5 separate regions of the Homo sapiens genome follow, and all the other regions are linked to region 2. Evidence: fine-mapped expression QTL. A gene starts in region 2. Each other region holds a variant in brackets. All regions are shown on one strand. Distances are between the middles of the regions. Region 1 holds the start of SUGT1P4-STRA6LP-CCDC180 (SUGT1P4-STRA6LP-CCDC180 readthrough). Region 2 holds the start of CCDC180 (coiled-coil domain containing 180). Region 3 overlaps LOC124902224 (a long non-coding RNA gene). Region 4 overlaps SUGT1P4-STRA6LP-CCDC180 (SUGT1P4-STRA6LP-CCDC180 readthrough). Region 5 has its middle 29 kb from the start of SUGT1P4-STRA6LP-CCDC180.

What was found.
Region 1: its variant is fine-mapped to the expression of CCDC180 in blood mononuclear cells (TOPMed, PIP above 0.99).
Region 3: its variant is fine-mapped to the expression of CCDC180 in whole blood (TOPMed, PIP above 0.99).
Region 4: its variant is fine-mapped to the expression of CCDC180 in whole blood (TOPMed, PIP above 0.99).
Region 5: its variant is fine-mapped to the expression of CCDC180 in whole blood (TOPMed, PIP above 0.99).

Annotation. Positions count from the first base shown.
Region 1 is chr9:97,237,100-97,243,271 of GRCh38, forward strand. It overlaps SUGT1P4-STRA6LP-CCDC180 (SUGT1P4-STRA6LP-CCDC180 readthrough), which reads left to right and starts at 1,327. Exons shown (of 45, transcript NR_036529.1): 1 at 1,327-1,468. It also overlaps the pseudogene ANKRD18CP, the pseudogene SUGT1P4 and the pseudogene SUGT1P4-STRA6LP. RefSeq lists enhancers at 735-1,560, 1,569-1,728 and a silencer at 1,488-1,782. The variant C/T (reference allele first, on the strand shown) is at 3,156.
Region 2 is chr9:97,305,135-97,311,306 of GRCh38, forward strand. It overlaps CCDC180 (coiled-coil domain containing 180), which reads left to right and starts at 2,525. Exons shown (of 37, transcript NM_020893.6): 1 at 2,525-2,672; 2 at 2,849-2,998; 3 at 4,280-4,470. The coding sequence starts at 2,930. SUGT1P4-STRA6LP-CCDC180 (SUGT1P4-STRA6LP-CCDC180 readthrough) reads left to right here. Exons shown (of 45, transcript NR_036529.1): 13 at 2,602-2,672; 14 at 2,849-2,998; 15 at 4,280-4,470. RefSeq lists a silencer at 1,993-2,287 and enhancers at 1,993-2,287, 2,230-2,730.
Region 3 is chr9:97,230,185-97,236,356 of GRCh38, forward strand. It overlaps LOC124902224 (a long non-coding RNA gene), which reads left to right. Exons shown (of 3, transcript XR_007061684.1): 2 at 3,018-3,167; 3 at 4,701-4,833. It also overlaps the pseudogene ANKRD18CP and the pseudogene VN1R52P. Among named protein-coding and RNA genes, the nearest start is that of SUGT1P4-STRA6LP-CCDC180, 5.2 kb to the right of the region's middle. RefSeq lists an enhancer at 1,976-2,573. The variant CAAAGA/C (reference allele first, on the strand shown) is at 4,030.
Region 4 is chr9:97,248,806-97,254,977 of GRCh38, forward strand. SUGT1P4-STRA6LP-CCDC180 (SUGT1P4-STRA6LP-CCDC180 readthrough) reads left to right here. Exons shown (of 45, transcript NR_036529.1): 3 at 1,987-2,038; 4 at 2,736-2,752. It also overlaps the pseudogene SUGT1P4 and the pseudogene SUGT1P4-STRA6LP. Among named protein-coding and RNA genes, the nearest start is that of SUGT1P4-STRA6LP-CCDC180, 13 kb to the left of the region's middle. The variant G/A (reference allele first, on the strand shown) is at 2,525.
Region 5 is chr9:97,206,633-97,212,804 of GRCh38, forward strand. It overlaps the pseudogene ANKRD18CP. Among named protein-coding and RNA genes, the nearest start is that of SUGT1P4-STRA6LP-CCDC180, 29 kb to the right of the region's middle. The variant G/C (reference allele first, on the strand shown) is at 2,243.

The sequences.
Region 1 (6,172 bases), 68 kb before region 2:
CTACAGATCCAACGCAAGCCCAGTACAAATCCTAGCAGTTTTGTTTTTTTTTTAAACTGACAAGCTAATTCCAAAATTCACCTACAAATACAATAGCCTTAGAATAAGCCAAAGCAATCTTGGGAGAATAAAGTCACAGGACTTCAAGACTTATTATAAAGCTACATGAATTAACACAGTTTGATAGTGGTATAAAGTTAGAAAAAGACCACTCCCTCCAGCTCCCCATTCTGCCCCCATCCCTGGAAGGCGCTGGCAGCTTTCCCCATCCGATCTGCATGGGTCAAAGGGCGCTGACGGAGGGCCTGACCGACCGGGATGGGAAACAAAGCGGCCCTGAGATCACTTTCGGTCTAGGAAGCCCACTAAGAAGAAAGCCTGGGCTGTGGAGTTATGAGGAAGGGAATGAATAGTACACGGGGGCCAGGCGCGTCTCCCCAGGAACCAGAAGGCCTTTAGCTCTATTAGTTCAGAACGACTTCCAGCGAGTCCCAGCCCTTTTCCATTCCCAGCGCAACGATCGCCGGAATCCAGGCGCCATCCAGGCCCCTCTGTTCCCTGAAAAGACCACGCAGCCTCCAGTGACATCACGGAGACGAAAGGGCTTGGCCACCTGTGGCAGCCATGATAAAACCTAGGGAAAACGGAGCTCGAAGTAGCTTATTTTATTTATTTTTTATTTATTTATTTATTTATTAAGGAGTCTTGCTCTGTCGCCCAGGCTGTGGTGCAGTGGCGCGATCTCGGCTCACTGCAACCTCTGCCTCCCAGGTTCAAGCGATTCTCCTGCCTCAGCCTCCCCAGTAGCTGGGATTACAGGCGCCCACCATCACGCCCGGCTAATTTTTGTATTTTTCGTAGACGGGGTTTCAGCATCTTGGCGAGGCTGGTCTTGAACTCCTGACTTCGTGATCCACCCGTCTCGGACTCCCAAAGTGCTGGGATTACAGGCGTGAGCCACGGCGCCCGGCCTGGAGCTTGTGTTACTAAAAGACATGCAAACGCCCTTAACCGCTAAGCTCCTGAGGGGTAACGGTATGCTACAAAAGTGCTTCTGAGCTACTACTCCTGGAGGCTTGGTCCGAGTGACCGCAGCAGTGGGCGCGGTGGAAGAGAAGGAGAACGTGTTGGCCCGGGCCTCCATAACCATGGCTGCTAGGGGCGGGGACTGGGAGCGCGGGTCCCGGGACTGGGAGCGCGGGTCCCAGGCCAGGGTGCGGGCTGGGAAGACTCGGTCCTCCACTGCCCCAGCAGGCCACGCGCCCGCGCGTAGCCTCCCGCCCCGCTAGCAGCACGCTGCGTGGCTGCTCGTTGGCTACTTACGACGGAAGCTCGGTTGGGGTTTCTGCAGAAGTTTCCCCCTTGGGCGGTGGCGGAGCTGATAAGCGCGCTAGTAGCAGCTCTGGCAGAAGCAACGGTGGCTTCGAGGGATGGCGGCGGCTGCAACAGGACCTGCAGCATCCCAGAGGTGCGTGTTTTTCCTTCCCTTTGCTATTTATTTTATCCCCTTTCCTTGGCTAGTGGGTCCTGCTGAAGTCGTTGTTTTCCTGAGAGGTTTTTTCCAGAGCTTCTCAGATGCTCTAATCCACTGCGGCGTTAGAGGTGAGAGAGCCTTTTCTGCTTCCTCCACCCCTGGCTGACGCGCCTCCTCCCAGCAGCACCTGATTGGGACCCAGGGTCCTGTGGTTACTGCGTGTCCGCCCCAGTATTGAGATTCTCAGTCTCCTCGCGTTACCTCAGACTCCTGTCTTGCCCTTTCCATTTCCAGACTCTTGCATTCCTGCACTTCTGAGAAAAACCTCCTCCATTTATTGGGAACATGGTTGACAACTGTAGTTGGGCTGAAAGGATTTTTTTTTTTTAATGGCAGTTATGACTAGAAGAGAAAAGTGGACTCTGGGCTCGATGAAAATTAATTTTTTCGTTTGACATCATTGTTGCCATTCTTATGTAAAAGTGCCGGTATGAAGTCAGTCTACTGGAACAAAAACCTTTTCCCTCACGTCCCTGAAACTTTCCAGATGTCTTGTCATAGTTCATTATTCACTCATTTGTTTATTCATCAAAAAATGTTTTAGGAGTTGCTGTGTGCAAAGGCGCTGATTGCTATGGGTTAGTCTTAGTTATATACTTAGCTAACCAAGAAATCACTTCTTGCAGGTGTGCAGTGAAGACAAACTATAAAGCTGTAAAGGAATGTAAAAGAGCAAGAGTTAAATAATAGGAGTTAAAGAAGAGCCTAAAGATAAATGATGCTGTGGGTCACAGAATTTAACCAGGAGGTTTTTGTTTTTCATTTTGTTTGTTTGTTTTTTGCTTTAAAGCACATAAAAAAGGACACCCTGTTTTGTTGTTATAATCTAACATAAGTAACGTTAACAATTTGAGGCAAGACGGCGTCTTTTCTAGCTATGGCTTTTATAAGAAATGTGCCATAGGGTGCTGGAGCCTCTGTTAAGGTGATATTTGAGCAGAGACCTGAAGAAGCAAGAGAATTCGCTTAGAAGTTCTGGGGAAAGAGCATTCCAGGCAGGACCAAGAGCCAGTGCAGAGATCCTGAAGTAGGCATGAAGTTGGCCTGTGTATGGAGCAGCAAAAAGGCCCTTTTTATTAGAGGGCCCATTTGATTAGGAGATAAGGTTGGACAGGAAACTCGGAGCCACGTCCTGTATGGCCTTTTAGGGCCCAGGTATGTTTTTTGAATCTAAATATATAGACCTTTAGATACCAGCAATAAGGCTTCTGGGATCAGTTTTGGGATAATGTTACAGGAAGCAGTGAAAATTTTTCTCTGTAATTTCTTATATTAGATAGCTATTACTTTGAATTTACATTTCTTAATTGTCATGTTAGGGCTAGTGCATCCTTTGGAAATCCAGTTTGTATAAAAGTTGCTTTTAGGCTCAACGCGGTGGCTAATGTCTGTAATCCCAGCACTTTGGGAGGCCAAGGAGGGTGGATCCCTTGAGGTTAGGAGTTTGAGACCAACCTGGCCAACATGGTGAAACCCTGTTTGTACTAAAAATACAAAACAAACTTTAGCGGGGTGTGGTGGTGTGGATCTGTTGTCCCAGCTACTCAGGAGGCTGAGGCAGGAGAATTGCTTTAACCTGGGAAGCAGAGTTTGCAGTGAGCTGAGATTGTGCCACTGCACT[C/T]CAGCCTGGGTGACAGAGTGAGACTCTGTCTTAAAAAAAAAAAAAGTTGCTTTTAAAGAATATTAATATAATAAACTTCATTGTCACTTTCTATCTTCTTTTACTTATTAATTTTTTTTTTTGAGTCGGAGTTTCACTCTGTCATCCAGGCTGGAGTGCAATGGCATGATCTCGGCTCACTGCAACCTCCGCCTCCCACGTTCAAGCGATTCTCCTGCCTCAGCCTCCCAAGTAGCTGGGATTACAGGCGCACACCACCACACCCGGCTAATTTTTGTACTTTTTAGTAGAGATGGGGTTTTGCCATGTTGGCCAGGCTGGTCTCAAACTCCTGATCTAAGGTGATCTGCCTACCTCGGCCTCCCAAAGTGCTGGGTTTATAGGTGTGACCATGCCCGGCCTTAAATTTTTTATTGAGGCATATATGACATACGTAAATAACACAAATTTTAAGTCTACAGTTTGATGAGTTTTTAGATACGTGTACACCACCCAGATCAAGATATAGAGCATTTCCATTCATAAGGTTCCTTCATGCTCCTTCCCAGCCAGCAGTTCTTCTTACTGTCCTGCTGACTACTGTTTTGACCTCCATCACCATCTGTTCGTTTTGCTTGTTCTGGACTCATAAACAGAATCATATAGTAGGTGCTTTGTTCAATGTACGCAGTCTGTTTTTGCTTTAATCATTCCATGAGTATACATCCATATTGTGTGAAGCAGTAGTTCTTTTGCATTGCTGTGTAGTATTCCATTGTATAATTGTATAAATATATGTTGTATAAATGTAAGTATAGCACAATTTATTCTAATTGGACGTCTGGTTTATTTCTAGTTGTTAGCTAGCATAAATAAAGTTTCTGTGAGTACTCTTTTGTGTATTTTGGTGAACACATGCATTTCTTTCTTTTGATTGTATATACCTAGGAGTAGAACTGGATAGAATAGTCATGTGGTTAGCACTGGTACCTTGGTTTTTAATGTGTGGCTCTTGGGCCAGCAGTAACAGCATGACGTGGCAATTCACTAGAAGTGCAGATTCTTATTGAAAGTCCTTATGGGCCTGGCACGGTGGCTCACACCTGTAATCCCAGCAGTTTGGGAGGCTGAGGCGGGTGGATCACCTGAGGTCAGGAGTTTGAGACCAGCCTGGCCAACATAGTGAAACCCCGTCTTTATTAAAAATACAAAAAATTAGCTGGGCCATGGTGGCAGGCGCCTGTAACCCCAGCTACTTGGGAGGCTGAGGCAGGAGAATCACTTGAACCCAGGAGGTGGAGGTTGTAGTGAGCCGAAATTGTACCATTGCACTCCAGCCTTGGTGAGAGAGCAAGATCCCATCTCAAAAAAAAAAAAAAAAAAAAGTCCTTATGACTCATGTAGTCCAGTACTTCTTACTCTTCCTTTTCCCAGTGTACATAAGAAAGCAGACCTTGCTAAGCGTGGTGGCTCATGCCTATAATCCTACCACTTTGGGAGGCTGAGGTGGAAGGATCACTTGAGACCAGGAGTTCGAGACCAGGAGTTCAAGACCAGCCTAGGCAACATAAAGAAACCCCGTTTCTTAAAAAGTAAACAGAGATTCAAATAAATCCAAATGATCTGTCATAGAGACACACCAGTTACAGGCAGAAGGGGGGGGCCTTAGGACACAGGTTTTCCAAATTTTAGTCTAGTGCTATAGAACAGTGGTCCTCAAAGGTGTGGGCTCCAGATAAGCTGCAGCATCAACATATTAGAAATGCAAATTATTTATTTATTTGAGATGGAGTCTTGCTCTGTCGCCTAGGCTGGAATGCAGTGGTGCAATCTCAGCTCACTGCAGCCTCTGCCTCCCAGGTTCAAGTGAGTCTGCCGCTGCCTCCCAATTAGCTGGGATTACAGGCGTGTGTCACCACACCCAGCTGATTTTTGTATTTTTAGCAGAGATGGGGTTTCACCATGTTGGCCGGGCTGGTCTCGAACTCCTGGCCTTAAATGTTCCACTCGCCTCAGCCTCCCAAAGTGCTAGGATTACAGTGTGAGCCACCATGCCTGGCCCTAGAAATGCAAATTCTCAGGACCCACCACAGACCCAGAATCAGAAACCCTGGGTGTGGGGAGGATGATCATGATAAGAACCAGCTGTGTTAAGAAGAAATGTTCTTTTTAAACTGTGAGATGACCTCACAAAGATGAACAGGTCAATGTAAATTATTAAATAATTGGTAATGATAAGTAGGGCCGAAACTTTGATGATGAATGTGAGTGTATTTCTCCTGGATTGTCCCAAGGGCTACTTTAACAGGCATTTGGGATTCAGGTCACTTGGTATCATGTGAGTTAAAATGTGTATATTTGATATAAGGTCATCCAATTAGGAATAAAGGGGAATGTTCTTATCACATAGGCTGTTTCACATTTTTCATTCATTCAACAAAGAATGAACATTAAGTGGTGAATGTTGTACTGGAAATCAGGAATCTAAGGATGGATAAGCTTCAGTGAGTGAGTTTTCAGTCTAGTGGAAAGACAAGTCAACAGATCATTAAAATATAAGGTAACTACTGTAATGGGGTTGTGTATAAAATGAGCGTAGCAGAATAGAATCCGACTGAGGGAGTTAAAAACTTTACAGAGGAGGTTGCAAAATTCAGTAGGGAGAGAAAACGTGTGAATTTTGAGAATCGTTCAGGGCCCAGTGTGTGTGGTGGTTAAGAACCCAGGCTCTGGAGTCAGAGACTCTTGGGTCAAAGTTCTGGTTTCATGATAACGGTGTAACTTCAGTAAGGTTCCTGTCATCAGTCCAGAGCAGATTTCTCATCTGTCAAATGGGAACAAATAGGACCTACTTGAAAGGTTTATTTTGAAGATAAGTGAGGTACCCTGTATCATATGCTTAGTACAGTGCCAGGCACATGGTAAATACTACATAACTGTTCTGTTTGGGGAATAATACAAGTTGTTCAGTAGTATTAGCACATAAAATGTGAGGAGGCAAGTGCTAGGAGATAAAGGTTAAACAAGTGGAGAGAGGC
Region 2 (6,172 bases):
GCCAGCGTGGGCCACATAGTGAGACTCTGTCTCAACAAAAAATAAAAATTAGCCAGGTATAGTGGTATATGCCTGTAGTTCTAGCTACTTGGGAGGCTGAAGTGGGAGGATTGTTTGAGCCCAGGAGTCTGAGGTTACAGTGTGAGCTATGATTGTGCCACTGCACTCCAGCCTGGGTGACAGAATGAGACCCCGTCTCAATAAAAAAAAAAAGTATACAACTTACAAACATAATGAAATAAGCCCAACATAAAAGAGTCCATTCTCTATGGTTCCATTTAAATAAAATTTTTAAAGAAGCAAAACCAATTCAGAAGTTAGAATATTTGTTATCCTGGGGGAAGAGAGGGCAGTGACATGAAAGGTACACAAAAGGGGCTTCTGAAGAGTTGGTAATGCTCTGTTTCTTATGGGTACTGCTTACTAGGCACGTTCCTTTCAGATAATTCATTGAGCTATTCACTTATGATTTCTATACTTTTAGATATGTACGCTATGCTTCAACATGCACATCCAATCAGTTGGTTAAATAACTTTTTTTCTGGCTAGTCACAGGTCAGATGGTTCAAGACTTGAATTACAGGGTCTAGATTCATATCCTAGATCTTCCTATCTTGGAGATCTTGGCCAAGTCACTGACTCTGAATTTCAGTTTCTTAATCAGTAAAATGGGTTACTTAAGGCACCCCTCTCATAGTCACTACAGGCATTAAATCTTCTCATTAAATATTTGCCTCTTGTGGTGGTCCTCATTGCTCTGCTTTGTCTGGACTATGCAGAAGACAGACAATAGCCTGGGATAGAGGAAGGAAAAGGATGGGGTCAAGAGACATTTTCAAAGTTAAGAGTGAGAGGGAAAAGATCAAAGATGATGCTGAGCTACAAGAAAAAGATCCAGAGGCCCTGGTGTCATTCTTTCCGTTCCCTATCTCTGGCTTTTTGCCCGTATCTAAACACAGGAGGTGGACTAACCAGATGATCTCTAACTGGTTAGTCTTTCGCTATGATATTATCAGGTTGGGAGGAGAATGGAAATGCCATCCAAAAGGCAAACACGAATTTCCACGTTTGATGCAAACTCAAACACAGTCTCAAAAACTTGGAAGTTAAGGGAGGTAAATTCTCAGTGCTGGGATTATGGGTTATTTTTACTTTCTCCATTGAAGTTTTTCATTTTTTTTTAATTTTTGACAATAAATATGGAGTTTAATCAAAACAAAATCCCATACTTCACATGTCCATGCCTGCTATTTATAGCCATATAATTTTTAAAAAGAAAGAAACCCCTAAATTACAGATGTGCCTGGAACCAGAACCCAGAAAGCATCTGGGTAGGGAAAATAGTTTCTAGTGTTCAAGGCCAAAGCCAGTAGGGCCTCCTTGGATGGGAAAGAGATATGAGACTGCAAGTAATTCCTGGACATTACCTATTTGTTATTGTGTTTTCATCCCTTCCCTCAGTCACCTACACGTTTTCTTTTTCCAGCTAAAATGAATCTAATCTTTGTTACAGTACTTCACCTTGTTAATAAAACCCAGGACTGAAGAATGAGAATAAAAGGGTTTTATACTCACCATTTCTTAATTTCTGATTCTAGTCTGGACAGAACAATCACTCATTCTAGAAAATTGGCATAGGGAGCATTTATTAGCAGTTGTAACATATCACTGCCAAAGGGAGGGATTCTGTAAGGCGGCACTGGGTGTCTCATATGTATGGGAAACCCGAGGCCACGTTCAGTGCCAACCACAAGCATTTTCATCTCTGGCCAGGCAAGCCTTGATCCCTGAATTTTGAGCTCTCAACCTCTTTTAAAATGAGAAAGAGATGGTTTCTTCCAGAGTCTTTCAGCTTCTAACTTACAGGCAAACACTACCGTATGCTGTCCCCCAGCAGAGATTGGTTTTAACCAAGGCAAATAAGTTAGGATGGACTTTGTTGACCGTGATGGCTCAGTGCTACATCTCATATATCCTACCACCTTTCAGAACATTTAATAGTGCTGCTCCTGGCAGCCCTGGGGTTGTAGTCCTTGTAGAGAGGAGGAACTGGCATTGAAAGAAATAGTTGAGTTTCACTACGCCACGTGGGGCGCTCCCATTGCTAAGAGCAATCTCCCCTCCCTGGGAAGAAAAGCGTGGGCGGGGCCGGGGCAGTCCCTCCCCTCCGCGTTGCCTTGGAGACCATGGGCGTCCAGCTGCAGTTGTCGCTGGACCGGCCCTGGCTGCCTTGAGAGGTGCTTTCTGCAGGCGGGGACGCGGCCAGGCCGGACGCAAGGCCTCCCTCCAATCTACCGGGCTCAGGGGGACGGCCAGGGGCTGCTCAGTCTACTTGGCGGGCTAGGGAGGGGGATGGCAGAGGCTGGTTGGGTCTTCTCAGCACACAGTAGGCGCCTAATTAGCGTGACCTGAATCAGGTTACTCTCTCCCTCCAATTCTCCTCCCTGTGTCCCATGGAGGGTGGATTAGGGTCCCGGATGCGAATTCTGCGCCGCATTAGAGTTCCAGTCCCAACCGACACCTTGAGCGCCGTTAACTTTTCCCCGAAGAGCATGGCAGAGTGAAGCACAAGCAATAATCCTGTATTATTCGCGTTCCCAGAGTCCCTTCGGATTTGCGCCATGCGCGGCGGGGAGAACCGGCCTCCTGCTCGAGTTCAGAGCTCATCTGAGGTTAGTTTCATCGTTTCGTTGAAAGTTAAAACCCTAAGTCGACGTTCCCCAGCCGCCTACCCCCCAGCAGAGAGTCCTTCCCCGGGGAGTCCTGCCCTGGGGTGCCGCCTCGAGGCCAGACGTCGTCCCGCCTGGACCTGAACCTGAGTTTGGGACGGGCGATTTCCCAACCTCAGGAATTGGAATTGAGACACCAAAGCCTAGACGCGTTTCCTGGACGACGGCTTCCCGGCAGGGGCATCCAGCCAGCGGCCAAGATGTCGTCAGTGGGGAAGGTGACCCAGGTTCCGAATGGGAAAGCCTACCAGCAGATCTTCCAGGCTGAGGTAGGAGCCGCCCTCTGTCCCGCTTTTCTCCATCCCCCTTCCCTTGCTTTCTTCCAAACTTCCCTCCCTCCCAGGGCTTCCCTACTGGAAATTGAATAAAACAAGGGCTTTGAAATTACTTTGATTTTAAAAATAATTCTTGCTTGTTCTTAAATCGTACCAATACAAAATTAGAATGTCAGTTCTTGAAAATTAGAAAACTTAAATTAAAATTTTAAATGTAAATTACTCAGAAATAGCCTGGATGGAACCACTGGGTGACCTCTGTTTTTCCCATGCATAAAAACATGACTAATTTTTGTATTTAAAAAATAGGTTTCATTCTGTACTAGTGTTTTGAAATCTGCTTTTTCTTCATAACAGTATCTCACAGACCCTTTTCTATGCCCGTGGGCGCCCATGTATTTCACCATACTGAGCAGCTCCCCACTTGTTGACCTAGGACTCCCATAACTGTATTAAAGTAAAGCCCTCTTGACAACAGTGTAGGTTGTTGAAATTGCCTTGTTCTCTCTAAAGCACTGTATAGACAAAACAAGATCTTAAAAGAAACACACAGACCCAAATTCTTCCTTTGAAGTTCTGTACTGCTTATTTAAAAGGGATTTGCATTCCTAATTTAAGCCTTAAATAATTATCTGTAAAACCTCTGGAAATTATAAAAGTATAAAGAAGCCAAAACAACAATTACATCACTCACATGATCCTGCTCTCTCTAAGGCCATTCTTAACTCATGGCATACTTCCCCCAGGGCCTTTTCCTATGCGTTTTAAATTTTGAGATCATACGGTATAGTTTTGGTTATAATTTCTAATTTCTAATTTCTATAATTCTATAATTTCTAATGCATGTAAGTGATATATTTAACCATATATCATCTCCTAAGCATTTCCTCAGGTTATAAAAAATTATTTGTGGGTCTCATCTTTAACAAATGCCTAACATTCCATCAAACAGACATACCATGTTTACTCAGCCAATCCCTATTATTAGTCAGTTCTGTTTTTCCAATTTCTTGTGATTATAAAAAAGGCTGAGATGTTCATCTTGATCTTCATTTAAGGTTCTTAGAAAGAGGCCTTCTTTGAAGTGGCTGAGTGACTGTTACTGGGAGGAGAGCTCTCCTATAGGGATATGACCTGGGGCTGAAGGCCTCCTGAAAAGTACCTTCCTGGGGGCAGCTCTCTGGATGTCTTTCTAGACAGCCACCATCAGCCTGAGAGTGCTAGGAAGTCAGCAGCTCTGACCACTCCCCCATCCTTGGTCCTCCCTGGATTCAGGTGCAGCTGGTCCACTCCCTGGCGGCCACCAGGAAGCGGGCTGCAGAGCGTTCTGTGACCCTGAAGAGTGGCAGGATACCCATGATGAAGAAGGTGGAGACTCCTGAAGGGGAGGTGATGTCTCCCCGACAGCAGAAGTGGATGCACAGCCTCCCCAACGACTGGATCATGGAAAACCCTGTTCTCCACAGGTAGGTCCTGTTGTCCATGCCTCACCCCCATGCACTAGGGTACCTGAGCCTTCAAAAACTCAAAAAGAGCCAGCACAAGATGAGTAGCCTGTAGGAATGAAGTCTCAAGTACCACCCCTAAAGCAGGGAGGCTAATACCTACCTTGCAGGATGGTTTGCTTCTCTCGCCCCCATTCCCCCACTCCCACAGTCATTATTGATTAAGTGCCTAGGACCAGGCACTGGGTATGGGGATCCCACCCTTATGAAACTTGAGACCTCGAAAGTAAATAAATAAGCACATCCCCCCAATGGCAGAAAAGCTCTGATTAAGGGGATGGGGCTATGGGACAGGGGTCAGGAAAGCTCTCTGAGGAGGAGGATCAGCTGAAACCAGAGGGTGCAGTATGGGGACAAGGCTCTGAGAAAGGTGGTCTTGGCCCCCTCCTGAAGGCTGAAGGTAAATGGACCCTGAGAGAGGGCAGGAGATGAGGCTGGGAGCAGCCTTTCAGGCCACAGTCAGTATTTTGAACTTTACTGCAGTGAGCAGCTGATTTGCATTTTTGAAGTCCCTCAGGCAGCTCTGTGCAGAATGTGGGGGGCTTCAAGAAGAGGCAGGAAGGCCAGGGCACAGGACACTGCAGTTGTCCTTGTAACCTTGTTGGTGGCTGTGAGAGGGAAAGTAGCTGTGGGCCTCGGGTGTCTCTTGGAGGCAGAACCCATGAGACCTAGTGATGAATTGGAGGGGAGGAGAGAGCTCCTGAGAGCCCTTGGTCTCTGGCCTGAGTGCTGGGTGAACAGCAGAAATGTATTTTCCTCAGATGAGAGCAGGCGGGGGTCAGGCATGGAGATCAGGAGTTTCTTGTGAACTTCCAAATTCAGAAGTTCCTAAGCATGCCATTTCAGTTCGCTGAGCTCTGACTGTCAGCTATGGGGAAAAGGAAGAAACAGATCTTCCCAGGGTTCTTGAGAGAATGGAGCAGGCGCGGTGCTCCCCTTAGGCACTTTGAGTTCTACACAAGCCATAAACCCTTGCTGGGCCTGGGACTCTGAGATAGAAAGCAGGCCTCCGCTGCCTGTCTTGGTTGTTCCTTTCACCCTCTTTGGGGCAGGGACAGACCCCTTGCTGAGTATAGTTCTCTGCCCTGACCTGGCCTTTGAATTTTCCCAGGAAAGCCACCCCCAAAACTCCTGACCCTCATGCTCTGAACTCCCAACAGATAGAAAAATCCACTGGCCCACCCAAGCCCAGACTCGAGGTCAGTGTTCTCTAGCCCATATCACCCTGCCTGATGCCCCAGGTGGGCATCCAGGGTTACAGGCAGCCTGATGTCCCAGGTGGGAATCTAGAGGAACTACCCATAGGGCCCAGCTCCCTCTAGACACTCTGCAGGGCTAGCAGAGGCCAGACTGGGCTGAACACATGAGTGGCAGAGCCAGGGCACCCTGTCTCCCTCAGGCGTCAAAGCAAAGGGTGCAGGTGTTTGAAGATTCGGCCAGCTAAGGCCAGTCCACCTATGTGCTCATCACCCAGGGCAGACTCCTGGGTGGGTGGATACCAGCCCAGGCCAGGGGGTAAATCACCACTGGTATAAACCAAGCCCCAAGTCCCTGGAGCAAGTGACCAAGAAGCTGGAGTTGACAGCAGGTGTCATCATCTCAGCTCCTACAGGGCTGCCTTGGTCCAGGGGCATTTAGAATGACAAGGTCTGAAAGACCTGTC
Region 3 (6,172 bases), 75 kb before region 2:
TAGGCAGCAAAAAACAAAACAAAAAGCAGTACAAACCAAAAAAGTCTACGATGCCTATCAGGGAATGTTTAAGGTTTGTACCAGTGTTTTTTTTTTTTTACGGTGTGCTTGACACAGAATTTTGTTTTACTTGCTGGGCAGGCTGTGATCTAATTGCCTAGTTGTGACCAATTTTTCCCTAGATGCATAAATTTTTTTCTGAGACTGGCAGACCACTAAGGGTCACCTTGCCAGCCTGTGTACCAGTTAATTAATCCTTACCCAAGAGACTTTTTCTTCCAAGACTTTTTCCTCCAAGACTGTCCTAATAGTTTATTAATTTTTTTTTTTTTTTTTTTTTTTTTTTTTTTTTTTTTTTTTAGACAGAATCTTGCTCTGTTGCTCAGGCTGCAGTGCAATGGCACAATCTCGGCTTACTGCAACCTCTGCCTCCCAGATTCAAGCAATTCTCCTGCCTCAGCCTCCTGAGGAGCTGGGACTACAGGCGTGCCCACCATGCCCAACTAATTTTTGTATTTTTTCTAGAGAAGGGGTTTTTTGCCATGTTGGCCAGACTGGTCTGGAACTCCTGACCTCAGGTGTTCCACCTGCCTCGGCCTTCCAAAGTGCTGTAATTGCAGGCATGAGCCACCACACCTGGCCCCTAATGGCTTTGAAAGGGTTGACTCATGCCCGCCTTTATAGAAAGTAGATTTTGCTCTCAAGAAACATTTAGGGCCAGGCGCAGTGGCTCATGCATGTAATTTGGGAGGCTGAGGCAGTAGGATCCACTAAGGCTGGGAGATCAGGACTGGCCTGGGCTATATAGTGAGACCCTGTCTCTACAAAATACAAAAAAACAAAAAATTAGCCGGGTGTGCTGGCATGTGCCTGTAGTCCCAGCTGCTGGGGAGGCTGTGGCAAGAGGATCACTTGAGCCCAGGAGGCTGAGGCTACAGTGAACTATGATTGCACCACTGCACTCTTGCTGGGGTGACAGAGCAAGACCCTGTCTAAAAATATGTATATATTTTACACTAGTTCCTTATTAATTTTTAAAATATGATTTTCTGCAGAATCCTGGCAATGTCTTTTTTTAAATCTATGGACATGAACACATAACATTCTCACTGATTCTCTTAACATAATTAATTGTATTAATGGATTTCCAAGTGTTGACTCTCACTTGCATTTCTGGCACAAAAGGCAGTGGATTATGATGTAATGTTTCAATGTGCTGACACAATGGCTTCTAATATTTAAAAGTTTACATTTATATTCACACGTCCTATACTTTTGTAATACATGGCTCAAACCAGGGTAAGATCTCATATCACCTTTATGCACCCTTCCTGAAAACTATTGGGAAGATTGACTAAGACTTGAATAGTTTAGGTAGCGTCAGGTTATCAGTTAGTTTACTAGTAGAATTTCTCTCTGGATCATATGAACTTGGTGCTTCTGTGTATATGAGGGACTCTGATAAATGTCTCTGTTTCTTTTATAAATATTATACAATTTAGAATCTCTATTTCTCTAGGGGTAAATGTTAATAAAATATATATTTATAGAATATATAACATCTACATTTGATTGTTAATTTACATTGGAATGCCCAACATTGTTCCCATTTATTTTTCATATCAGTATTTGACTTCAAGTTGCTGTTTGCACTGTAATCTGTTCACATATCCTTCTCAAGTTCCTCGCATGATCCCATTTCTCTGTTCACAGTGAAATAATAGTTTGGCTCAGGAATCTGAGGATTAACAGAAAATTGGGTTTTCTGTAGGGGACCATCTCAGGAAAGCACAGACTCTAGTAAGACGCGTGTGCTCTGCTGCTAGCCCCTCAGTCTAGACTCACCCCTTCCTGCTCCCTCCCTAGGAGCCCCTTCCTGTTGCCTCCAGGGATTATGGAAAGCAAGAGCCTCTGCCAAACACTCTCATCTTGCTAGAGATGCCCACTAGAATGTGGGGAAAAGAAAGCGAGATCAGACTGTTACTGTGTCTATGTAGAAAGAAGTAGACATAAGAGACTCCATTTTGTTCTGTACTAAGGAAAATTCTTCTGCCTTGAGATGCTGTTAATCTGTAACCCTAGCCCCAACCCTGTGCTCGCAGAGACATGTGCTGTGTTGACTCAAGGTTTAATGGATTTAGGATTATGCAAGATGTGCTTTGTTAAACAAGTGCTTGAAGGCAGTATGCTTGTTAAAAGTCATCACCACTCTCTAATCTCAAGTACCCGGGAACATAATATACTGCGAAGGCTGAAGGCCACAGGGACCTCTGCCTAGGAAAGCCAGGTATTGTCCAAGGTTTCTCCCCATGTGATAGCCTGAGATATGGCCTCATGGGAAGGGAAAGACCTGACCATCCCCCAGCCCGACACCGGTAAAGGGTCTGTGCTGAGGAGGATTAGTGAAAGAGGAAGGCCTCTCTGCAGTTGAGATAAGAGGAAAGCATCTGTCTCCTGCTTGTCCCCGGGCAATGGAATGTCTCGGTGTAAAACCCGATTGTATGTTCCACCTACTGAGATAGGAGAAAACCACCTTAGGGCTGGAGGTGAGACATGCTGGCAGCAATACTGCTCTTTAATGCACTGAGATGTTTGTGTATGTGCACATCAAAGCACAGCACCTTTTTTTAACCTTGTTTATGACACAGAGACCTTTGTTCATGTTTTCCTGCTGACCCTCTCCCCACTATTACCCTATTGTCCTGCCACATCCCCCTCTCCAAGATGGTAGAGGTAATGATCGATAAATACTGAGGGAACTCAGAGACTGGTGCCAGGGCGGGTCCTCCATATGCTGAGCGCCCGTCCCCTGGGCCCACTTTTCTTTCTCTATACTTTGTCTCTGTGTCTCTTTCTTTTCTCAGTTTCTCATTCCACCTGATGAGAAACACCCACAGGTGTGGAGGGGCTGGCCCCCTTCATAGAAAATTGTACTTGTTTTTGGTAATTGGTAACTGGGACAAAGTTTCTTGAAATATCTTTAGCTCCCCAAATATGCACTGTCATTGTTGCCGCAGGTGAAATGCTCATTGCAGTGCTGCAAAAAGGTGAGGTCACAGGACACAAACCCATATCTGAGACCTGGATGCCTTCCTCCACGCACTCACCCACTGGCTGTCCTGAGCATCACCCTGCACCTATTGTCACAGCAACAAGGGAAAAATCAGGTGAGTATTTTCTATTTCAGTCTAGAAGGCATAGCCTGCAAAGGAAGGAAGTGTGCTGGGAGATGGAGCAGGGTCTTTTGTCTGGAAAACGGAATTCTGGGCTAGAAACTAAGTCGGTGCCAACGCAATGCAGGGAAGGGGAAATCATCACTGGGTCGTGGGCTGCACTCGTGGAGAAGGAATGGAGGTCAAGACCATAAACCAGCCCCTAACTGCTTCTCATTTAATGTAATCCTCACTGTTCATCATTGTTGGTTTGAATAAAGTCATGAAATCTTTTTTTTTTTTTTTTTTTGAGACAGGGTCTCATTCTATTTCTCAGGCTGGAGTGAAGTGGTGCAATTGTGGCTCACTGCAGCCTCGAATACCTCAGCTCAAACGATCCTCCCACCTCAGCCTCCTGAGCAGCTGGGACCACAGGCATGTGCCACCACACTCAGCAAACTTAAAAAAAATTTTTGTAGAGACAAGCTCTCCCTATGTTGCTCAGGCTGGTCTCCTGGCCTCAAGCAATCCTCTTGCTTCAGCCTCCCAAAGTGTTGGGATTATAGGCGTGAGCCATCACATCCAGCCTATTTTTAAGTTCTCTAATATAATTTGGAAATTAATTTGCCCGCTGCCCTGTCTTATCTGCATGAACATTTCCAAGATTTGTAGAGGTGTTTCTATGACACCTCCATGCCTGTGATCATGTATAAGATGTAGCTGATTGAATTATCTTATTCTGTTCAGAAATAGTAAATATAGTGTTTTCAACAACTCTGTGCATAGAATATACCAAATGGAGACCATAAGTGTGTCATGACAGAAAAAATCTATTGTCTCTTTATTATGGTGAGACTCTTTTCCCTCATTAAATCAG[CAAAGA/C]AAAGTAACTGAATTTAGCTTTTTGTGTTAGAAAAAAACATTATGCTCCTCAGCAGTTTTCAGAATTGCATTATTTTTTATCTTTCCTCTTGTTTAAAAATGTTTTCATGTCATCCCCAGGCTCAGTGCTCATTTTGGGTCAATGTATAATCATTACCTCCAGTTTTTCTTGTGCATAATGGACTTGAGTTTTAATATAGTGAACTGTTCTGACATTGAAATACTATATTTGATATTTTCACATTCTCCAGTCCTCACTTTTTTTTTTCTACACTCATGGTAATTTAGTTTCTCCTCTGCAATGCTTTCCCTCCTACTCGTTTTCCTTCTCCCTTGCTTAGCACACGGTCATTCCATTATGCCCTCCTTCTTGGTTAAGATGGAAAAGAACCTCCTCTTTTAATTCCATTTGTGCATTTAAGAAATTCCATTTGGTTGTATATAATTATTCTTCTAAGATTATGCTAAGATCAGACTATCTATATTTTACTTGGATCTCTGATCACTATAGATGATATTTGCCTATAAAACAAGTATTGGTGTTTTCAATCACAATCAAAAAGAAAAAACTCAAAACGATTCTTTTAAAAACTCACAAGAGGTACAAAAATATTTTTTAAATACATGGATTGTCTTAAAAATTATTTCTCTCTGTTGCTACGACAGCATAGTGGTCAAGTCCATTGTCAGCTTCTGACACTGCCTCTTACAAGGAGGTGACTTTGGAAATGTCATTCAGCCTTCCTGTGCCTGAGATCGCCTCACCTGTCAAATGGGAACAATAAAGCACTTCAAAGAATTGTTGTAAAAGTTCTATGTAAAACACTATTATAGTACTCTTATGCTAGGAATATATATCTATACACACATATATTTTTATAGTGAAACTCTCAGGAAGAGGAAAATGAAGTTTAATAGGAAATTAATGGCTTGAAAACAATGGTAAGTGGGAAAGAGTGGCTTTCAGTTGCCATGGTACGACAGGCCTCTTGTTTCCATGCCAGATCCTCTCACTCTGAATAGGATGATCAGTCATTGAAAAAAGACAAATGGCCTCCAGGGATGTGGCAATAGGAATATGATCTTCTTATCTCAGACCACAGTAGGATTCCTGGGCAATTGCTTTCTTCATCACCATTATAGTTATTTATTTCACCAGATGCACATTAAGGTCCACAGATCTGATTCTGCAGCACCTGACTGTAGCCAACTCCTTGGTCATTCTCTCTAAAAAATGCTCCATATCCTTGTCAATGCTTGGTATTGGAAATCCTTTTAATTTAAGTCATTCTGGTGGTAGTTTTGGTATCTCATTATAATTTCAATGTCCATGATACAGCTATTTTTTTTTTTTGAGACAGAGTCTGACTCTGTTGCCCAGGCTGGAGTGCAGTGGTGCCATCTCACTCACTGCAACCTCTGCCTCCCAGGTTCAAGTGATTCCTGTGCCTCAGCCTCCTTAGTAGCTTGGATTATAGGTGTGCACCACCAAGCCCAGGTAATTTTTGTATTTTTAGTAGAGATGGGGTTTTGTCATGTTGCCCAGGCTGGTCTCCAACTCCTGGCCTCAAGGGATCCACCCACCTCGACCTCCCAAAGTGTTGGGATTACAGGTATGAGCCACTGCACCCAGTCATGACATAGCTATTAATATAGAACTTTTCATGTGGGCCTATAGGTCAATCTAGGAATTCGCCCTTTCAGAGGCTATTCATATTTATATGCATATTGGTGCATGGCAGGGGTTGGTGTATACACCTTGGTGTATGGCTGAGCCATAACTGGAGCATACCTGAGAATTACCCTATTCTAAGTGTGTTTGGAGTCCCAGGCTAAGGAATCCGGGAGTAGCCAACACTGAGATTCACTACTTATCTATGAAGGACAGCCATATCCCTGCCCCATCCCTTGGAACACAGGCTGTACAGGTGATCGAGGCCCTTTGTTTTGGGTTAAATGGAGATTGCTAGAAGGAGGGTTCTAAGTGAAAATGCTATATGCTATATGGACTACATGCTTTTTTTTTTTTAATACGAACGGTAGTATTTCTCCAGGCCAGCCCACCACCACTGGACCACCCCTGTATATAACTCCTGAAAAAACCTTGTTTCCTTCACTGGTTCTGCCTCTCTTACAGT
Region 4 (6,172 bases), 56 kb before region 2:
GGGTTACAGGCGTGAGCCTTTATGCCTGACCTCATCCTCTACATTTCTAGGCCTTATTACTTTTAAGAGCAATAGAAAAGTTTCCTGCCTAAATTCCTTTCTTTTTTTTTTTCTTCTTTTTGGACCTGGGGGCACAGAGCCTTACTCTTTCACCCAAACTCGAGTGCAATGGCACCATCATAGTTCACTGCAGCCTTGAATTCCTGGGCTCAAGCTGTCCTTCTGCCTCTGCCTCCTGAGTAGCTGGGAATACAGGCATGTACCATCACACTAAGCTAATTCATTAAACATTTTTGTGTAGAGATGAGGTCTCGCTACATTGCCCAGACTGGTCTCTGAACTCCTGGCCTCAAGTGATCCTACTGCCTTGGCCTCCCAAAGCACTGGCATTACAGACATGAGCCACAGCACTTGGCCCCTAAATTCTTTTCTTGAGTTTTCTTTCCTTTCTTGAGTTTTCTTTCCTTCCTTTTTTCCTTTCTTTCTTTCTTTCTTTTTTTTTTTTTTTTTTTTTTTTTTTGAGACAGAGTCTCGCCCTGTCTCCCAGGCTGGAGTGCAATGGTGCATGGTGCATTCTCGGCTCACTGCAACCTCTGCCTCCCGGGTTCAAGTGATTCTCCTGCCTCAGCCTCCAGAGAAGCTGGGATTACAGGTGCGTGCCACCACGCCCAGTTAATTTTTTTATCTTTATTAGAGATGGGGGTTTCACCATGTCGGCCAGGCTGGTCTCAAACTCCTGACTTCGTGATCCACCCGCCTCAGCCTCCCAAAATGCTGGGATTACAGATGTGAGCCACCGCGCCCGGCCGAATAATATCTTAATATCATGCCATTGACATTTATTCTCTAATTACTTCAGAGGTGGCCTTCAGAAGAAGGCCTCTTTGGTAAAATTGCTATTGAGGATATTTCACTAAAAAACAAATTTATCTTTACATTTAAATCCAGGAAAAATTTAAGTTAAACTTTTAGGCTTCTATTTTTATCAGACAGGGTAAAAAATTTATAACTCAGAATATTACCTTTTCCCCTCTTTGTATGTTAGACTGCCTGATTTTAGTTACTGATTATTTAAAATAATAAGTTATTCAAACCCTCTTCTCTAGAATATAGTGTATGTGAGACAGTATATTTAAAATTTTTATTAAGGCCCATGTAGTTGTATTTCTTTTATAAATTAGTAAATTAGAAAATTTTGTTTTAAGAGATTTTTAATTTAAAATTTCCAGATTACTCTTGGCTGGAGTTAACTTGAATTAGTAGGCTTTTATTTAGAGTACTCTCGATGTTTTTAACGTATTTCACTATGCACTGTGTATAGATGTAATCGTTGTTCTGTGTCTCCAGAAGTGAATAATTTGTTTACGCCTACATTTACACTATTATCTGTAAGTATATAATTTATCACCTGTAGCCTCTTGACCCCCATGTAACTTGGATATATGAGAAAACTTCACAGAATTTAAAGATGCTTCTTGGTGTTGGTAGGAAAGGGATGGGAACAGATAAAGCCACTGAGAGAATAGTGGACTGAATAGGTAGCTGCATTGAAGAGTGAGCTGGGGCTGGGAAAGGCTTAAGGACCTCAACTCAGCTCCCAGTTACCAAGCCTCCTCCCCACCCTAACTAATGGCATTTTGGGAGTCTGATTTAGATCTGACTTTGTTGTGTGTATGAGGAAGCTTCTCTAAGGGCAGAGGGATTGAGGGAAATGTGCATTATTTATATCTATGAAATTAGTGAGGTTTACTGTAGTTAAAATTAATTTAAAAAAATCAAAATGTTTCAGGATAAACAACCAAGTGTTAAACTATTGGTATGTTTATAGCTATAACAGAGTTTGCCATAAGTTCTGTTAAGACAGGTTTTATTCACTGCTGACTCCCCAGTGCCTAGAACAGTGCCTGGGATGTAATAGGTATTTAATAAGTATTTGCTGATTAACAGGTTGTGCAGATGAGTGATGTGATAGGTTTTTCTTTCTAGGTGCAGATGCTAATTTCAGTGACTGGATTAAAAGGTGTCGAAGCTCAGAATGGTATGTAGATCTCCCATGGTATTTCAATTTAAAAAGAAGTAAACATTTGAAATTTTTTGGTTTAAACAAATTTGTTTTTACCTTTATAATTTATTTTAAATAATACATGTTTCCTTAAATGTAGACTACCAAAAATATAATGTTTTTTGCCTAGCTTCTTAGGTTGAAAAGGAGATTTGGGTGAATTTGCTGGTATGACATATCAGTAAGAAATTACTAAGGAGTCTAGGCCGGGGCCCGGTGGCTCACTCCTGTAATCCCAGCATTTTGGGAGGCTTAGGCAGGCAGATCACGAGGTCAGGAGATTGAGACCATCCTGGGCAACATGGTGAAACCCCGTCTCTGCTAAGAAAATACAAAAATTAGCCGGGCGTGGTGGTGCGTGCCTGTAGCCCCAGGTACTCGGGAGGCTGAGGCAGGAGAATCACTTGAACCCAGGAGGCGGAGGTTGCAGTGAGCCAAGATCACACCACTGCACTCCAGCCC[G/A]GGCAACAGAACGAGACTCCGTCTCAAAAAAAGAAATTACTAAGGAGTCTAAAATGAATTCAGGAGGCAAAATGAACCCACTTTTCTTTAGTTGAAAGGTATGGAGAATTGGCTTGCTTAATCAGTATGTTTGTGCAATAAAAATCATATAAATACCTTTGCCTTTAAATGTACTGTTAACTGAAAATTCTTCCTTTTTATGTTTTAATAGGCTCGGAATCTGAGGTGGTAAGTCCAGAGTTTTCATTCTTCATGTTTTTATTTACTTAGGTTAAATTTCAAGTACCCAATATATTTGAGACAGGACTCAGGATGAGCTCTCTGTCAGCTAAATATTAAGCAATTCCATTTAAGTACTGGTTCCTCTAGGAACTGAAATAAAGCCATTTTTTCATAAATATGGAAGTTTCTAGTCATGAAATTTATTGGGCTATTTTAATGAATTTATCGTGTGGTTAAAATCGATTTCGTATGTTTTAGTATGGTCAAAATGATTATTTATCTGTTCCTTACTAAAACCTTATTACATTTATTTAGGTCCAACAGTTTGAATCACTTGTAGGGCTTTTTATGATAGGCTAAGACAAAAGTTAAGGAAAATTGGAAATGTTTATCTTTAATTCAGTGTAATGTTTATTGTTTTGGGCATGAAGACCTTCAAGTCTTTTCAGTTATTAAAAATTATGGTGGAATTGAATAAAAGTAACTTTTAATTTTATTTTTTTTAAAAGACAGTGTCTTGCTCTGTTACACAGGCTGGAGTGCAGTGGTGCCATCATAGCTCACTGCAGCCTGAAACTCCTGGGCTCAAGTAGTTTTCCTACCTCAGCCTCCCAAGTAGCTGGGACTACAGGTGCATGTCACCCCACCAAGCCCGCTAATATATTCTATTTCTTTAAAAAGCTTTTTAGGCTGAGTGCAGATTTTTATGCCTGTAATCCCAGCACTTTGGGAGGCTAAGGCATGTGGATCGGTTGAGGTCAGGAGTTCAAGACCAGCCTGACCAACATAGTGAAACCCTGTCTCTACTAAAAATACAAAAATGAGCCAGGTGTGGTGGTAGGCGCCTGTAATCCCAGCTACTCAGGAAGCTGAGGTGGGAGAACCCCTGGAGCCCAGGAGGTGGAGGTTGCGGTGACCCAAAATCATGCCACTGCACTGCAGTCTGGATGACAGAGTGAGACTCCGTCTAAAAAAAAAAAAAAAGGACAAACTACCATAAAGATGAATCTGCTTTTTTGTTTTGTTTTGTTTTTTAATTAAGCTAAATATTATGTTACTTCATTATGAGGGAACAATGAAAAATTACAGTTTAAGTTTTAGATTCCTTTATATTTTCAAAAAGAAATAAAGCTATACAATAGAATTAATATTCGGAGAATATTTAACTATCACTCAAAGCATGTAGATAATAACCAGGCGTGGTGGCTCACACCTGTAATACCACCACTTTTGGAGGCCGAGTTGGGCAGATCACCTGAGGTCAGGAGTTATACACCAGCCTGGCCAACATGGCGAAACCCTATCTCTACTAAAAATACAAAAATTAGCTGGTCGTGTTGGCATGCGCCTGTAATCCCGCTACTCTGGAGGCTGCAGCAGAAGAATCACTTGAGCCTGGGAGATGGAGGTTGCAGTGAGCTGAGATCACGCCACTGCACTCCAGCCTGGGTGGCAGAGTGAGACTCTGCCTCAGTTAAAAAAAAAATGTAGATAATAGTGTAATTTAGTAAGAAAAGTACTGAACTGAAAATCAAGAAATCTGACTCTGGATCTTTGCTAGCCCTGAGAATTTACTCTAGGCACAAAATGACTATGACTAAATTTTTAGTACCTTTGAAAGGAGGTCCGTGGACCAAATGAGCTCTGGAGTCCTTTCAGCTGTAAAATTATATGAAGGTATAATGATAAATGAGTTCAGGCGAATAAATGATATAGGTAGGCTTTTTCCATTACTACTCCTTTTTTATGTTTAATTAATTAATTAATTAATTTTTGAGACAGAGACTCTCTCTGTTGCCCCGGCTGGAGTGCAGTGGTACAACCCCAGCTCACCGCAACCTCCGCCTCCTGGGTTCAAGTGATTCTCCTGCCTCGGCCTTCTGAGTAGCTGGGACTACAGTTGCCTGCCACCATGCCCGGCTGATTTTTATATTTTTAACAGAGATGGGATTTCACCATTGTTGGCCAAGCTGGTCTCGAACTTCTGACCTTAAGTGATCTACCCGCCTTGGCCTCCCAAAGTGCTGGGATTGCAGGTGTGGGCCACAGTGCCTGGCCACTACTCCTTTTTTATACAAAGTTCTGCAGCATACTGTTACTATTTATTAAGTTGAAGTTCTAAGGACATGTGAAATTTCCTATCGTGGAATAGGATCAGGGTTGGCCTGTGTCATGAAGAATGGTAACTAGACCTGTAGAAAGGAGACAGGTTCAGAGGGTTGGAGAAGGAAGTGCAAAGTGAAGTAGTTTTTTTGCATCTAGCTAAAAAGGATCTGCCTATTTATTTATTTAAAGATTGTGAAGAACAGAGCTGGTTAATTATGAGGCAGATTTATGAAATAGCTGCTTGGGACAATAGAAAGTGAGAAAAGGGATGAAATCTTACCAAGTTTTTTTTTTGGAGACAGAGTTTCGCTCTTGTTGCCCAGGCTGGAGTGCAGCGGCATGATCTCAGATCACTGCAACCTCCACCTCCTGGGTTCAAGCAATTCTCCCGCCTCAGCCTCCTGAGTAGCTAGGGTTATAGGCACACGCCACCATGCCTGGCTAATTTTTGTATTTTTAGTAGAAACGGGGGTTTCACCATGTTGGCCAGCCTGGTCTCGAATTCCTGACCTCAGGTGATCCACCCACTTCAGCCTCCAAAAGTGCTGAGATTACAGACGTGAGCCACCATGCCCGGCCCTTATCAGGATTTTGGTCTGTTTCTGGTCATATCCACATGGTGTAGAATTTGTTTAATAAAATAATTTTGAGTAACCAAGCACAAAACTCTAGGTAGATTTGAAAGGGAGATATTTCCAAAAATTATGAATTTGATTTTTTTGGTGTATGTCTATCAAGAGATTGGTAATGCGTGTCCATTTGAAGTAATTTAAATTGAGTGTGAATAAATGATAATGAGCTTGCATTACTGAGCCATCTCATACACTGGTGGAAGAATAGCATGTGTGGTAAATACACAGATCTGTGTGGCTAGAGTTGAGGATGTAATTAAGCACTCTCATCTCTCATTCTTTTTTCTGTTTTGAATCTTGCATTTGTTTATTTTAACCATTCTTCAGTCCTACTTACTATGTTCTCAGTTTGCCTTTCTTCCCCTTTCTTCTTTAAATGCTAAGCAACTACTTTTCTTCCTTGTATAGTAGTTTATGAATACATTTCATATCCCTCATTCCTATGTAAGTCTTTGAGGTTAAGAAGCGTGTCTTATTTGCATGTTTGTATGTGCCTCAGTTAGGGTTCCCAGATAAAGTACAGCATGCTCAATTAAGTTTGTATTTCTGATGAACAATGAATTATTTATTTATTTATTTGAGACAGAGTCTCACTCTGTCACCCAGGCTGGAGTGCAGTGGCCCAATTTCGGCTCACTGCAACCTCTGCCTCTCTGGTTCAAGCGATTCTCCTTTCTCAGCCTCCTGA
Region 5 (6,172 bases), 99 kb before region 2:
GGACTATGTGAAAGACCAAATCTATGTCTGATTGGCGTACCTGAAAGTGACGGGGAGAATGGAACCAAGCTGGAAAACACTCTGCAGGATATTATCCAGGAGAACTTCCCCAAACTAGCAAGGCAGGCCAATATTCAGACTCAGGAAATACAGAGAACGCCACAAAGATACTCCTCGAGAAGAGCAACTCAAGACACATAATTGTCAGATTCACCAAAGTTGAAATGAAAGAAAAAATGTTAAGGGCAGCCAGAGAGAAAGGTCGGGTTACCCACAAAGGGAAGCCCATCAGACTAACAGCGGATCTCTTGGCAGAAACTCTACAAGCCAGAAGAGAGTGGGGGCCAATATTCAACATTCTTAAAGAAAAGAATTTTCAACCCAGAATTTCATATCCAGCCAAACTAAGCTTCATAAGTGAAGGAGAAATAAAATACTTTACAGACAAGCAAATGCTGAGAGATTTTGTCATCACCAGGCCTGCCCTAAAAGAGCTCCTGAAGGAAGCACTAAACATGGAAAGGAACAACCAGTACCAGCCACTGCAAAATCATGCCAAATTGTAAAGACCATTGAGGCTAGGAAGAAACTGCATCAACTAACGAGCAAAATAACCAGCTAACATCATAATGACAGGATCAAATTCACACATAACAATATTAACTTTAAATGTAAATGGACTAAACGCTCCAATTAAAAGACACAGACTGGCAAATTGGATAAAGAGTCAAGACCCATCAGTGTGCTGTATTCAGGAAACCCATGTCACATGCAGAGACACACATAGGCTCAAAATAAAAGGATGGAGGAAGATCTACCAAGCAAATGGAAAACAAAAAAAGGCAGGGGTTGCAATCCTAGTCTCTGATAAAATAGACTTTAAACCAACAAAGATCAAAAGAGACAAAAAGGCCATTACATAATGGTAAACGGATCAATTCAACAAGAAGAGCTAACTATCCTAAATATACATGTACCCAATACAGAAGCACCCAGATTCATAAAGCAAGTCCTGAGTGACCTACGAACAGACTTAGACTCCCACACAATAATAATGGGAGATTTTAACGCCCCACTGTCAACATTAGACAGATCAACGAGACAGAAAGTTAACAAGGATACCCAGGAATTGAACTCAGCTCTGCACCAAGCGGACCTAATAGACATCTACAGAACTCTCCACCCCAAATCAACAGAATATACATTTTTTTCAGCACCACACCACACCTACTCCAAAATTGACCACATACTGGGAAGTAAAGCTCTCCTCAGGAAATGTAAAAGAACAGAAATTATAAAAAACTGTCTCTCAGACCACAGTGCAATCAAACTAGAACTCAGGATTAAGAAACTCACTCAAAACTGCTCAACTACATGGAAACTGAACAACCTGCTCCTGAATGACTACTGGGTACATAACGAAATGAAGGCAGAAATAAAGATGTTCTTTGAGACCAACGAGAACAAAGACACAACATACCAGAATCTCTGGGACACATTCAAAGCAGTGTGTAGAGGGAAATTTATAGCACTAAATGCCCACAAGAGAAAGCAGGAAAGATCCAAAATTGACATCCTAACATCACAATTAAAACAACTAGAAAAGCAAGAACAAACACATTCAAAAGCTGGCAGAAGGCAAGAAATAACTAAAATCAGAGCAGAACTGAAGGAAATAGAGACCAAAAAAACCCTTCAAAAAATTAATGAATCCAGGAGCTGGTTTTTTGAAAGGATCAACAAAATTGATAGACTGCTAGCAAGACTAATAAAGAAGAAAAGAGAGAAGAATCAAATAGACGCAATAAAAAATGATAAAGGGGATATCACCACTGATCCCACAGAAATACAAACTACCATCAGAGAATACTACAAACACCTCTACGCAAATAAACTAGAAAATCTAGAAGAAATGGATAAATTCCTCGACACATACACCCTCCCAAGACTAAACCAGTAAGAAGTTGAATCTCTGAATAGACCAATAACAGGATCTGAAATTGTGGCAATAATCAATAGCTTACCAACCAAAAAGAGTCCAGGACCAGATGGATTCACAGCCGAATTCTACCAGAGGTACAAGGAGGAACTGGTACCATTCCTTCTGAAACTATTCCAGTCAATAGAAAAAGAGGGAATCCTCCCTAACTCATTTTATGAGGCCAGCATCATCCTGATACCAAAGCCGGGCAGAGACACAACCAAAAAAGAGAATTTTAGACCAATATCGTTGATGAACATT[G/C]ATGCAAAAATCCTCAATAAAATACTGGCAAACCGAATCCAGCAGCACATCAAAAAGCTTATCCACCAAGATCAAGGGGGCTTCATCCCTGGGATGCAAGGCTGGTTCAATATACGCAAATCAATAAATGTAATCCAGCATATAAACAGAACCAAAGACAAAAACCACATGATTATCTCAATAGATGCAGAAAAGGCCTTTGACAAAATTCAACAACCCTTCATGCTAAAAACTCTCAATAAATAAGGTACTGATGGGACGTATCTCAAAATAATAAGAGCTATCTATGACAAACCCACAGCCAATATCATACTGAATGGGCAAAAACTGGAAGCATTCCCTTTGAAAACTGGCACAAGACAGGGATGCCCTCTCTCACCACTCCTATTCAACATAGTGTTGGAAGTTCTGGCCAGGGCAATTAGACAGGAGAAGGAAATAAAGGGTATTCAGTTAGGAAAAGAGGAAGTCAAATTGTCCCTGTTTGCAGAGGACATGATTGTATATCTAGAAAACCCCATTGTCTCAGCCCAAAATCTCCTTAAGCTGATAAGCAACTTCAGCAAAGTCTCAGGATACAAAATCAATGTACAAAAATCACAAGCATTCTTATACACCAATAACAGACAAACAGAGAGCCAAATCATGAGTGAACTCCCATTCACAATTGCTTCAAAGAGAATAAAATACCTAGGAATCCAACTTACAAGGGATGTGAAGGACCTCTTCAAGGAGAACTACAAACCACTGCTCAATGAAATAAAAGAGGATACAAACAAATGGAAGAACATTCCATGCTCATGGGTAGGAAGAATCAATATCGTGAAAATGGCCATACTGCCCAAGGTAATTTATAGATTCAATGCCATCCCCATTGAGCTACCAATGACTTTCTTCACAGAATTGGAAAAAACTATTTTAAAGTTCATATGGAACCAAAAAAGAGCCCGCATCACCAAGTCAATCCTAAGCCAAAAGAACAAAGCTGGAGGCATCACGCTACCTGACTTCAAACTATACTACAAGGCTACAGTAACCAAAACAGCATGGTACTGGTACCAAAACAGAGATATAGATCAATGGAACAGAACAGAGCCCTCAGAAATAACGCCGCATATCTACAACTGTCTGATCTTTGACAAACCTGAGAAAAACAAGCAATGGGGAAAGGATTCCCTATTTAATAAATGGTGCTGGGAAAACTGGCTAGCCATACGTAGAAAGCTGAAACTGGATCCCTTCCTTATACCTTCTACAAAAATCAATTCAAGATGGATTAAAGACTTAAATGTTAGACCTGAAACCATAAAAACCCTAGAAGAAAACCTAGGCATTACCATTCAGGACATAGGCATGGGCAAGGATTTCATGTCTAAAACACCAAAAGCAATGGCAACAAAAGACAAAATTGACAAATGGGATCTAATTAAACTAAAGAGCTTCTACACAGCAAAAGAAACTACCATCAGAGTGAACAGGCAACCTGCAAAATGGGAGAAAATTTTCGCAACCTACTCATCTGACAAAGGGCTAATATCCAGAATCTACAGTGAACTCAAACAAATTTACAAGAAAAAAACAAACAACCCCATCAAAAAGTGGGCGAAGGACATGAACAGACACTTCTCAAAAGAAGACATTTATGCAGCCAAAAAACACATGAAAAAATGCTCATCATCACTGGCCATCAGAGAAATGCAAATCAAAACCACAATGAGATATCATCTCACACCAGTTAGAATGGCAATCATTAAAAAGTCAGGAAACAACAGGTGCTGGAGAGGATGTGGAGAAATAGGAACACTTTTACACTGTTGGTGGGACGGTAAACTAGTTCAACCATTGTGGAAGTCAGTGTGGCGATTCCTCAGGGATCTAGAACTAGAAATACCATTTGATCCAGCCATCCCATTACTGGGTATATACCCAAAGGATTATAAATCATGCTGCTATAAAGACACATGCACACGTATGTTTATTGTGGCACTATTCACAATAGCAAAGACTTGGAACCAACCCAAATGTCCAACAATGATAGACTGGATTAAGAAAATGTGGCACATATACACCATGGAATACTATGCAGCCATAAAAATGATGAGTTCATGTCCTTTGTAGGGACATGGATGACATTGGAAATCATCATTCTCAGTAAACTATCGCAAGGGCAAAAAACCAAACACTGCATGTTCTCACTCATAGGTGGGAATTGAACAATGAGAACACACGGACACAGGAAGGGGAACATCACACACCAGGGCCTGTTGTGGGGTTGGGGGAGGGGGGAGGGATAGCATTAGGAGATATACTAATGCTAAATGACGAGTTAATGGGTGCAGTACACCAGCATGGCACATGTATACATATGTTAACTAACTTGCACATTGTGCACAAGTACCCTAAAACTTAAAGTATAATAATAATAAAATAAAATTCATTTTAATTCTATGTATTTAAATCAAATGCATTTCATGCTGAAAGAGTTGGCTACTATGTACCTTCATTAAAGACGTCCTGTTTAGTCTGTCACAGATGTCAATCAGGCATCTTCTCCCCAGCAAGAGAGTGACCACTTCCACATGGCCATGGGCACAGGCCAAATGTAGAACAGTCCTAAGTGAGCGAGAGGAGTTTTCAGGAAATGTAGTGCAGTATCTCAAAACCTACAATGGTTCATGTAATTGTATACATTGAATGGCATGTTATTCCTCTGCCTTCAAAACAAACAATTTTCTTTTGAAGAAAGTACAATATTTATTAGCTCTTACTGCTCCCTACCTTAATGAAACAGCAGCCTATTTGGATAGAATAAGCTTGGTGTTTGGATTCAGTTCAACTAGGGTTTGAGTTCCACTTTGAACTCAGTCACATACCAGCTATTGCTTAGCCTTTCTGTGCCTGAATTTCCTCATTAATAAAGATGACAAAGCAGCTAGCTCACAAGACACCAGTGTGATGCTTAAATGAGACTCTATGTAAAGCATTTAGAACCACTTCCAGAACAAGCAACAACTCAATAATTGTTAGATTTTTGTTTGTTGAGACAGTCTTGCTCTGTTGCCCAGGCTGGAGTGCAATGGTGTATTTATGCCTCACTGCAGCCTGGAACTCGCAGGCTCAAGCAATCCTCCTGCCCAGCCTCCTGAGTAGCTGGGACTACAGGAGTGCACCAGCATGATCAGCTAATTTTTAAAATTTTTTTGTAGAGTAGGAATGTCACTTTGTTGCCCAGGCTGGTCTCAAACTCCTAGCATGGTGGGAACTTCCCACCTCAGCTTTCCAAAGTTCTGGAATAACAGCTGTGAGCCACGCACTCAGCCAGATGTTATAATTATTACTATTACTACTCCTTAACAAAAACATTTTAATTAAGTAAAATGATACAATTATTGCTATTTTGCAGGATGATTTAAAGATTAGGTCACATTTCAGAGCATCTGATATTGGAATAGTATTTATAATTCATAATTTTTTATAACTATAATTGGTAGCATTTAAAAATCATCTTCTTAATATAGAAAATAGTAGGGTATCACACAATCCATGAGGCCTTACAGTAAGTAGAATACTGTATACACAGCAGGTCTAGGGCAGTTCTAGGCATCTAATTGACACTTAAATACATTTTAATTCCTAAAAGTACCATGGGGAAAGAGCACTGAAATAACAACATATTTTTTAAACAAATTACTTCTTACTCTGATTTTTAAAAATGTGAAGCTGTCCGGGTGCGGTGGCTCATGCCTGTAATCCCAGCACTTTGGGAGGCCAAGGTGGGTGGATCTGTAGGTCAGGAGTTCAAGACCAGCCTGGCCAACATGGTGAAACCCCGTCTCTACTAAAACTACAAAAATTAGCTGGGCGTGGTAGCAAGCACCTGTAATCCCAGCTACTCAGGAGGCTGAAGCAGGATAATCACTTGAACCTTGG